Linked DNA regions of Homo sapiens: region 2 is linked to region 1. The links come from fine-mapping of genetic effects on gene expression. A gene starts in region 1. The other region holds a variant in brackets. All regions are shown on one strand. Distances are between the middles of the regions.

The links. PIP is the estimated chance that this variant, and not a neighbour inherited with it, causes the effect.
Region 2: its variant is the best candidate, but not a certain one, in a credible set for the expression of TCL1A in whole blood (TOPMed, PIP 0.67).

Annotation. Positions count from the first base shown.
Region 1 is chr14:95,711,236-95,716,608 of GRCh38, forward strand. TCL1A (TCL1 family AKT coactivator A) reads right to left here and starts at 2,890. Exons shown (of 4, transcript NM_021966.3): 1 at 2,712-2,890; 2 at 985-1,161; 3 at 514-567. The coding sequence starts at 2,831. The coding sequence ends at 520. LOC107984703 (a long non-coding RNA gene) reads left to right here and starts at 4,248. Exons shown (of 3, transcript NR_148060.1): 1 at 4,248-4,472. RefSeq lists enhancers at 951-1,050, 1,091-1,250, 1,291-1,510, 2,625-2,674 and a silencer at 2,905-3,144.
Region 2 is chr14:95,670,402-95,675,774 of GRCh38, forward strand. It overlaps LOC124903372, which reads left to right. Exons shown (of 2, transcript XM_047432042.1): 2 at 1-13. It overlaps TCL6 (T cell leukemia/lymphoma 6), which reads left to right. Exons shown (of 8, transcript NR_028288.2): 6 at 41-176; 7 at 930-1,086; 8 at 1,570-3,051. Among named protein-coding and RNA genes, the nearest start is that of TCL1B, 13 kb to the right of the region's middle. The variant A/G (reference allele first, on the strand shown) is at 2,595.

The DNA.
Region 1 (5,373 bases):
GATCATGAGGTCAGGAGATCGAGACCATCCTGGCTAACACGGTGAAACCCCGTCTCTACTAAAAAAAAAAAAAAAAAAAAAAAATTAGCCAGGTGTGGTGGCGGGCGCCTGTAGTCCCAGCTACTCCGAGGGCTGAGGCAGGAGAATGGTGTGAACCCGGGAGGCAGAGCTTGCAGTGAGCTGAGATTGCACCACTACACTCTAGCCTGGGCCACAGAGCCAGACTCATCTCAAAAAAAAAAAAAAGCAATGGTAAATGAAAGTGCCAGCTGAAACTTGTGAAGTACTTTATAGATATGAGCAGCTGCGATAAAGGGGGCTGCCTACAAAGCCCTTGGCTCCCGAAGTGGTAAGGGAGACATGAGTGCCTCCAGGAAGCCTCTCCCATCCCTAGGGACCCTCAGATGGCAGCAGTCGGGGAGGGGTTAGCACTGCCTTCATGGAGAAGGGGTGGTCTTTCTTTCTGATACAGCCACTGTGGACTAAGAGGGGTCAGGCTCCAGTGGAGCTCACCATACATCAGTCATCTGGCAGCAGCTCGAGAAGCATGTCCTCCACGCCGTCAATCTGAGAGGCAGAGAGAGAGAGAAGGCATTGATCGGCCAGAGCCCTCCACTCCCTCCATTCCTCACTCCTGCGCCTTCCCCTAGCTGGAAACAGCAGGTAGGAACCCAGGTGTGAGGATTTCAGGGGCTCTTGGAGACTGCCCCTCCTCCCACCAGCCTTCAGCCTGTGACTGCCCACCAGAGATGTCTTCCTGCGGCTAGCTGGTGGCTGGGAGGAAGTGGAGGTAGGGTTCTGTTAGAGACCTCAGAGGATCTATCTTCTCTCTGGTAAAGTCCTTTAGAAATCTGCACTTGTACATTTCCCCCATTTTTTAATGCTTTTGGGACTGGGATGGAGGGAAGATAAACCACTAAGGCCAGACATGGAGGAGGGCAAACCCAAGATCACCCGATGGACCTCTGGGAGAAAGACACTCACCTTGATGTGGTACACTAAGCGCCAGAAACTGGAGTCTGAGGATCGGTATCGTCCATCAGGGTAGAGCTGCCACATGATAGGCAGCAGGCTTGGGCCTATCTGGGTGGGGGTCATAGGCCTCCCCAGGACGACGTCTTCCCGACGCAAGAGCACCCGTAACTGTAACCTATCCTTTATCTGAGGAGAAGAAAAGGACAGGGCATACTTTCAGGTTCCGCTTGCCAGGGCTTCTCCAGGCGCAGAAAACCGGAATCCCTCCTGCCAGCCATCCACCCATCTGGGCAGGGGTCCGAGTGTGAAATGATGGTCATCACTGTTCCCTGAAGCTCACTTCCTTAGGCCATGCATGCTCCTCTCAGGGACTCTGGCTGGGCCAGGACCACCAGCACACACACGTGTCTAGCCACCCAGACAGGGCCATGAAAGGCACACTTTTTTCTGGCGGGTTGCAGCGGCTCACACTTGTAATTCCAGTGCTTTGGAAGGCAGAGGCAGGAGGATCGCTTGAGGCCAGGAGTTTAAGACCAGCCTGGGTCACAGAGCGAGACCCTGTATCTACAGGAAAAAAAAAAAACAACAAAGAAAGAAAGAGAGAAAAAGAATACTGGCCTTTTCAATGATGTGAGGCAAAATCTGTCCCACAGTTTGCTAGTGGGTTATTTTTTGTGGAGCATGTATCATGATTTTATGAAAAACTGTCTGGTTCGTGGTTTTGGTGTCACGTTGAAGAAGAGATTTCTCAGAGATTTAAAAAAAGAAATCCACTGAATCTTCAAATTATTTCTTCAAATTTTGATTTTAAAAAAGTAAGTATTTAACTTGATTTTTAAAGTAAAAACATATTTAAAAAATTGAAATGCCAATAAAAATGCAGATTTTGTGGTGGTTAAGAGCCTAGAATTCCAACCCCATTACCTACTAGCAATCTTACCTCGGACAAATGTACATTTTTGTGCCTCAGTTTCCCATCTGTAGAGACACAGTCAACACTCAATAATTTTTGATTGCTACTGGACATACGTGTTCTAATATATTTTTTAATTTTTATGCTTTCTTCAGTGTATGTTTGGAGAGAGTTTGAACATTTTTTGACTCTTTTTCATTGAGTAAATCCAAATACTTGTAAAAGACTTATCTATTTCTTTAACAAAAACTTAACATGGATTAAGGACCCATCTTAAGGCATCACACATTAAAAAAGTCAATATTGATTCAATACCGGCGCTTATACTACGACATCACTTGTTAAATTTGTTTTCTAAATAAAGCCCAGAGGTAGTGGAAAATACTTCACACTCTAGGCCAGTGTTTGCTATGCCTGGTTGACCCTAAACTGTTGAGGGTTCTTTTTAAAAATACAGATTTCTGGGACCCACCTGAGATGATTCCGATAATCGGCCATATGGATGAGTCACTTAGAGATACCCATTTTTAAGGATTAGGACCCCGAAGCCCAGAAAATGCCTGCTGTAGTCAACATTATAGTCACACTCCACAGGCACTGGGTCCACCCCTTTGACCGACATTCCTTTGCGGTTTTCCCACCCTTCTTCCCTGCCTGGAGAACTCCTATTCATCCTCCAGAGCCCGGCTCAAAGTGGCTTCATCTGTGGGGATCCTCCCTGCCCCATAGTGAGTGCTCCTTGAGTCCTCGCCCTTCCTAGGGCATCCCAAGCTCCCAGGGGCTGCCCCTGCTGCCTCGCCATCCGCTCCAAAGCTGGCTGTACCTCGATGGTTAAGGGCAGCCAGGCGTGCTGCTTCTCGTCCAAATACACGAACTTCTCCCAGGCCCACAGGCGGTCCGGGTGGTCGGTGACTGCCTCCCCGAGTGTCGGGCACTCGGCCATGGCGTCCTCGGGCCGCCTAAGAAGCAAGAGCCAGAGCCTCTCAAGGCCGCTCGCTGGTCCCTGGGATGTGGGGCCGACCCTTTATATCCGGGCAGCATGCGGCCGCCACCAAGCGGCGGGGCGGGAGGACGGCCTTGGGGCGGGACCCCGGGTCGGGAGAACGACCTTGGGGCGGGGCGTAAGGCAGGATGGGGCGGGGTTTGTGGGGGTCTTGGTGGCAAGTGAGGGTCCCGCGCAGGCGCTACGTCCCGGCCTGACTTGCTCCCTGGAACGGTGGCAGCTCCTGGGAACGCAGACCCGGCCCCAGCTGGCCCGCGCCTTCCTCGAGGCCCCGGCCAGCAGCGACACCGACCGCCGCCCTCTGCTGCTGCTGGAGAGGCACCGGGGTGACCTTGGCCCTTTCTTCTTCTGGAAGACCCCCCCGCTTCCCTCGGCTGCCGGACCGGGACTCTGGGCCTCTGCTGGGAACTCACAGTCGACACCAGGATGCCCAGAGCCAGGACCCACTCCTCATCTTATGGGATCAGAAGAGACCCGCGCGGGCCTGAGTTAGGCCTGGGCTTTCCCGGGTTCCCTGGATCTCCACCAGCCTGTGCCTTTGAGTGTCAGAGTACGTTTTTTGGCAAAGGACAACTCCTGACGCTCCCTCTCCCTCTTCCATACACAAAGCATGCGTTTTCCACAGGTCTGATGTGCTGTGGACATCTAATAGCTATTACAAAATGGAGAATCATGGGTTTTTGCCCTTGGGCTTTGAGTTTACTAGTGAAAGCATAGTTCGAAATGAATACTTAAAAAGAAATCCCTCCTTCCACCCTAAGATCAATGGATTTGAAAAGTGCCTGGTTTATATGATCAAAACCACCCCTCTGTAAATTACAAGCAATAAGGAAAACAATTTCACTTTATTTTGCAGTAACGCATTCCCACTAAGGCAATTAAGAAAGTCATGCACAATGAAAAACATGTGAAACCAGCTCCAGCCTGGTTCAAACATCACCATGGGATGGAGTTTGGTGTCTCATCTTCCAGCTCTTTCCCAGTTCTCTGACCAGGCACTAAGAACATAATTTGTGATCCTTTGAAATATCACCAAAGTGGAAATTAAGAGATCTGATGAGGACATCTGATTCACCTGGCAGCTGGGTATCTGCCTCTTTGCCTATCCAGAGAGCCTAATTCCCAAGAAGGGGCTGAGAGGGCCTAAGGTAGTCGAGACATAATGGGATTTACCAGGAACACAACATAGAAGAGAAAAGCCAAGGGAAGTTGGGGGTGGAGTGAGGGCCCTTGAGCTCAGCAAACCTCTTTTCCACTGTAGCCCTTAGTGGTGTTAATATTTAATATGCAAACTTAAAGGTTTCATGCTGATTTTCCTGTGAATGGCTCTTGACTCCAGACCTAGATAGCCACAGAGCAAGATGACAAGCTCGCTAATAAGCTCTGTTGGGGAGGTCTCAGCCCAGGCCAGAGCTGTGAAGTGAGAAATAAGTCCAGTTTAAATAGTGCTGCTGGGATGGACTTTTGTGGCCAGGGAAGGGGTACCCAGGAGCCAGTGTGGCCACTGACCCAGCCTCATCAATGGCCCTAGGATCCAGAATGCCACAAACAATGGAGCAAGAATCAGATCTGTGTGTCTGGGTAAGCAGAATGTTCTGAGAATATAATTCCTTTTTCCTTCTTTTGTAAGAACAATTTATTTCTTCAGTTTTGCATGAGGGCTTCTTAATATTGAGCAAGAATATACATCATTATTGCGTGAGATTTAGAAAATTATTTGAGAGAGGGTTCCAATAAATGAAAATGAATTAAGGATGTCTGTGGAGTTCATTGGGCAACTTATAGAGCCCTTGAGCTTTTTTAAGTGAACATTCCACAAGAGGGGAAACAGTAGCTATTGCATAGTCTCAGAGCTGTCTCTGAGCCTCCGTGGCATGTTATCTGCCCCATCTAAGGGTTATAAAGGCCATAAGCCTAGCTTTAGAATTTTATGTTCCTTTCCAAGTCTTTGTTAGTCTGATTTCCCTGAGGATAAGCAAATGGATGTTTCACACAGAAAGCTACAGGAAGCAATCATTTTGACAGAATCCTTAATGGATGCGTTCATGTCCTGATTTAGATCTAGTTTTGCCTTTACCACGATCACCTGTGAACTTGACAAATCCTTTGCAACTTGGCCTCAGTGCCATAGTTTTGTAATGAATGGGGCAAAATACCTGCTCTCTAAGCTTGTTTCTAACTCAGTAGGCCCCAATCCTCCTATAACATTGCCTAGTGGGAGGAGGGAATAGTTAAGAAAAGAGATGGACAAAATATATGATGTTAGTTCAGGAATGCCTACAGTTTTTGGTACAGTGGCTGTAGATCAAGGACCCCAGTGGAATTCATGGGAGCCATTCTTCTTGTTTGGGTTCCAAAGAAGGGGTTGAGGAGTAGTCAAGGCCATCAGGATGACCTTGACTCAAAGTGTTGTCCCTGGACCAGCTACAGTAGCATCACCTGGAGCTCGTAAGAATGACAGAATCTGGAGCCTCCCCCAAGA
Region 2 (5,373 bases), 41 kb before region 1:
TTTTTCATCTGCATGAGTAATTGTTTCCTGTTTTATCCAGAGAGACAACAGATTTACATCCCAGACACATTCACACTGGGCCAAGAGCAGCTGCCATTGCAGATTCGAGTCACGTCCTTTTTTCCTTCCTTCTCCTTCTTGGAGTTACAACAGAAGCTGGGGAGGTGAGAGTGCAGGTGAGAGAGGAGGGGGGCTCTGGAACATGTAGCCTGTGAGGAGGGAAATCAGGATGGTGCTTGGGTGGAGGTGGGAGCTGGGCCAGGGTCTTGGCTGGTCAGGAAGGCTGGTGAAGCATGTACTGGGGAGGCAGAGGTCCTGCTTTCTTTCCTCTCTTTCCTTCACACCTACCTCAACCCACTGTCGAGTCCTATCAGCTCTGAAATAGATCCTTCCTCCAGCGCCTTCTCACCTCTCTCTCCACCATTCCAGTCCATGCCGCCTCATCTCTTACTGGGACTTTCACAACAGCCTCCCGAGTGGTCTTGGCTTCTGCTCGCAAATCCTGCAGTGCCTTCTCTGCGGAGCCACAAGCTGGATCTTTTTAATCCGCTCTCGGTTTCTCACAGCCCTTGGAATGAAACCTTGGCCTACAGCCCTGTGTGACTTGCTGCCTGTCCTTACCTCCTAACCTCATCTAATATCCCCTTCCCCTCCTCGTACCGGCCTTTCTGTTTCTCAGACACTCCAGGCTTGTTCTGCTCTTGGACCTTCACGCTGTCTTTCTGTCTCCTGGGAATCTGTGCCCCCTCTGCCAGATCATGCAGCTGGCTCTCTCTGCCCAAATACCCTCTTCCGAGGGGTCTTCCTTGGCCCTGTGTCTGACATAGGTACCCTCCTCCATCACTCCAGCCCATTACAGTGCCATAACACTTTTATTGCCATCTAGAGTAACATCAGTTGGTTTTGTTTATCATCTGCCACCCTGCTAGAAAGGACGTGGATGAAGCAGAGAGGCACGTGCCTGTCTCATTCGCCTCTGGATCTGCTGCATCCAGGACTGTGCCAGCACAAAGTGGGAGCCCGATAAATATTTATTGAAGAAATGAAAGGTGACAAAAGGCAGAAGGAGGGAGACCCCAAAAAGAGGTAAATTTGGTATCTTAGCAAGTGGGTGACTACCACTGTCTGGGGGAAAGCTGATACACGAGGACTTGACAATAATTACAGCAGTAACAATCGCTACTATTTTGTTTTGAGATGAATTTTAGTTTCTGAAATTGTCCAAAGCACTTTTATCAATAGAAACTTGTTACACATCCCTCCAACAGGGAGAAGCAGCACAGGAAGCTGCCCCCTCAAACACTAAAGGCTCCTGGAGCTATTCACAGTGCTGGGGAACAACCAGAGGAGGAGGAGGACAGAGGGAGAGAATACTTTTTTTAAAAATCCCAAACAAAACCAAATTCTATACATGTATATCTCGAGTGAGTAAATGTGTAACACTCAGCAGTCTCCTACACTTGCCAGGTTTTGTGGCTTCATGCAGTAATATAAAATGTGCTTCACAAAGCTAGGAGTTGGCACAGAATATAGGGTTCTGATTCATATTTTAGTTTTACTTTTTTGTAGAGATGGGATCCCACTATATTGCACAGGCTGGTCTCAAACTCCTGAGCTCAAGCGATCCTCCTGCCTTGGCCTCCCACGGTGCTGAGACTACAGGTGTGAGCCACCACTCCCAGCCTGATTTATATTTTATAAAGAGGCAACGATGGAGTACACAGCTGAGCAATCTCTTGCATTTCTGGACCTTGAGCATCAGGAAGCTTAGGGAGGGTGAAAACTCAGAAGAAAGCTCAGAGTTGAGACCTTTGATTTTTTGCCCAGAGAGTCCAGCTAACACACTTTATAACCCAAAAGGCCTTACAAATATTTCAGAGCAGAGGCAGCATTTTTGCACTGGATAAACAAAGGTACGGTAATTTCTTCATAGTTTATTTTCATTACAAGTAATTCTTTTCCTGAAGAAAAATTTATATTTCAGATTTATTTCCCCTCTCAAAGGGGAGGGGAGTTATAATATTCTGTTTCCATAGCACCATTCCTCAAGATCAAACCCAGGCAGGCATTTTTACAGCACACACTTCCATATGTCATTGCTAATCCTCGCAACCTTGAGGAAACTGAGGTGCAAAGGGGTTGAGGAATGTGTTCACCATCCCAAAGCCAACGAAGTGCCAGAACCCAAATCCAAGCTTGGCTGTCTCATCCCCAAGGACGTACTCTTTATGCCGTTCCTTATGACTTTTCATGCAGCAGGTGCAAGGCAGCAAGAATTTGGCTCTTCTGACATTTATCAGGCACCTGGTATGTGCCAGGCCTACTGTAAACCCCAAGATGACATGGTCCATGTCTATCCATTCAGCATCAGAGAGACTGTTATCAGGACTTGAGGCCTGAGACACAGCCCTGAATCAGATGCAGGCCTCTGGTGTTTGCAAAGGATGCGTGAGTATGTGTATGTGTATGCGTGCATTGTGTGTAGGGGTGTGTGTATGTTGGGGGTTGGGGGCAGAAAATGCTCCCTGAACTGTTGGTATTAAGGCAGATCTTTGATGGAGGGACTGGGGTGTGGAGACTTGAACCCTAGTTTC[A/G]AAGTGGGGACCTCGAACACTAGTATGGCCAGCAGACAGGCTGGAGTTGCTGAATTGTCAGCTAGGTCTTTAATCCACTCCCCTTCTCTAAATCAGGGTGGAATTGGACTCAGGGCTGGTTCAGGGCTGAGGTTTCCGGGGGATGAATGATTCCAGACAGTGGGAAGGGGTGATGGATGATGAACCTGGCAAGTCACAGGACTATGGACTTGGCTGTATGTTGCATGTATGTGTAAGATCTGAGTTGAGACCTTTGATTTTTGCCCAGAAAGTCCAGCTAACATACTATATAAGCCAGTGAGACCAGCCAGTGTCTGTTCATTGCCTCTGCCTTGCCCCTATGCCTGCCCGCCTCCTATAGCAGGTCCCTATAGCATAATGAAAATGCGAACAACCTTTTCTCTGGACACTGGGGAATCTAGTCTGGTGGATAAAGATGGATGGCTGTTAAACGATCACATCTTGGGCTCTGTGTGTTCAGTGAAGCCTCATTTACCAGATCTCTCTGATGAGAAAGGTGAATGGTGGGGACAAAATACATGCTGTTATCAGAAGTCTGGCGGGGGCCCTGTGCAGTGGCAAGCACCTGTAGTCACAGCCACTTGGGAGGCAGAGGTGGGAAGATCGCTTGAGCCCAGGAGGTTGAGGCTGCATTGAGCTATGATGGCACCATTGTACTCCAGCCTGGTTGACAGAGTGAGACCCTGTCTAAAAAAGGAAAAGAAGTTTAGGGGGAAAGCTTTTAGGAGGTGGATGATGGTTAATTTTAATTCCACCTAACATTTTAAACTTTGGTATGTCAAAAGGTGAGAATTGCCAGTGTCGAGGCATGGAAACCAAAGGAAAACTAGAGGGTTGAGAAGGTGGGAAGGGCCGCAGTGTGGCAGGCGGCAGTTACTGGGATGGCTTCTACTAAAGGAACTCATCGTCCACCACCTTCAGGAAGGAGGCTCCTGGGGCCCTTTAAGAGAGCAGTTTCAGTGGAGGCTGCAGGCAGGTTGGCAGAAACAAGATTATGAGATGGTCTGTACCAGGTATCAGGCTTGAGGGTTAGTGCCTCTAGACTTCTCTGAGAAGTCTAGCTTTGAAGGGAAGGCTGGAGAGCTAGCACAATACTCAATAATAACAAGACCTAAGGCACTTACTGTGTGCCAGGCATGTTCTAAGAACTCAGCACACTTCAGCTCATTTAATCCTTACAACTATACAAAGTTTGTAGTCTTTTCATTATACCTTTTGACAGGTGAGTTACTTGCTGGAATTCACGTGGCTAGTAAATACTGGAGCTGAGATTTGAAAGCAGGCAATCTGGCTCCAGAATCTGTGTTTTCAACCCACATACTATATTGACCATCATGAAAAAATGGTGGTGAGCAGGCTTGTTTCTAAGGATGGGAGGGTCCTCATAATATTTGTATTTACAGAGAGGAGGGAGAGGTGGGTTACTTCCTCTCCCAACCCCAGAAAGCCAGGCATGTTGGCTGGCATCCCTGGGACCTCAGATATTCAAGCAACCATGGCCTTACAAATCAGGCATTCTATTTATTAGAGTTGTGCAGTGAGGTCCCCTCCATTTCATCCCCAGAATATCTCCTAGACAAGTTGGATCCTGCAGGGCCCGAGTATAAATAAGATGGTGCCCTCTGTTGTTATGGAGTAGCTTGGAGCTGGGCCCCAGATGCCCTGTGTGGATTAGATGAGTGATTAGTATTTGGCAATGTAGCTTGAGAGGCTTGCTGAGTTACTGGGGCATATGTCCCCAGCTCACGAGTACCAGCCTGACTTCTGTCAATCAATCAGTGAACAGGGTTTGCAGCGTCCACCAGGTACCTGTGGTGTAGTAGAAGAGAGTTTGAACTTTGGAATCAAACATGCTGAAGTTCAGATTCCAGCTCCTCCACTAACTATCTCTGTGATCTTGGCTAAGTGACCGTCACTTTTTTTTTTTTTTTTTTTTGAGACAAGGTCTCATTCTGTCTCCTAGGCTGGAGTGCAGTGGCATGATCATGGCTCACTGCAGCCTCAACCTCCCGAACTCAAGAGATCATCCCACTTCAGCCTCCTGAGTAGCTGGGACCATGGGGCGCCTGCCATGGCATCAAGCTAATTTTTTATCTTTTGTAAAGATGGGATTTCGCCAAGTTGCCTAGGCCAATCTCAAACTCCTGGGCTCAAGCGATCCACCCACCTCAGCCTCCCAAAGTGCTGGGATTACAGGTGTGAGCCACCGTGCCCATCCTGATGGTTGCTTTCAGAGCCTTGATTCTTCATCTCTAAAACAAAGATAGGAATACTGCCTAGTTTCCATGAGGAGCTTGTAACACATGCGGGCCTCTCTCCCCTCACCCCAGTCTTTGGTTAGACACTTACTATTTGCAAAGACCCAATTTCTTCATCATAAGAAGGCTGCCACCACACTTGAGGGAGTGACCCATTTACAAACAATTGCTTCCTTCTGGGTCATTCTGATGGATTAAATGAAGAACCATTTAAAACCACAGCCCAAAGGGCCAGAGGGAGAGGCAGCAGAGGGAAGATGCAGGTGGATCTTCATGCACTGCATGAGGAAGCTTTGTACCATGGTCAGGAAAAGCTCCAGGCACACAAGGGCAGCCTCCATGGCCAATCAGAGTGCACCTCTCACCTCGGCAACTCTGCTAACCTAAATAGACCAGTCACACAGCAGAGCTGCAAAAGAAGACATGATAATTACAGAGACCCCAGGGGACCGTCTGTGCGGACTGATGCTTTGTTTCTCCTGACCCCTCAGACCTCTCTA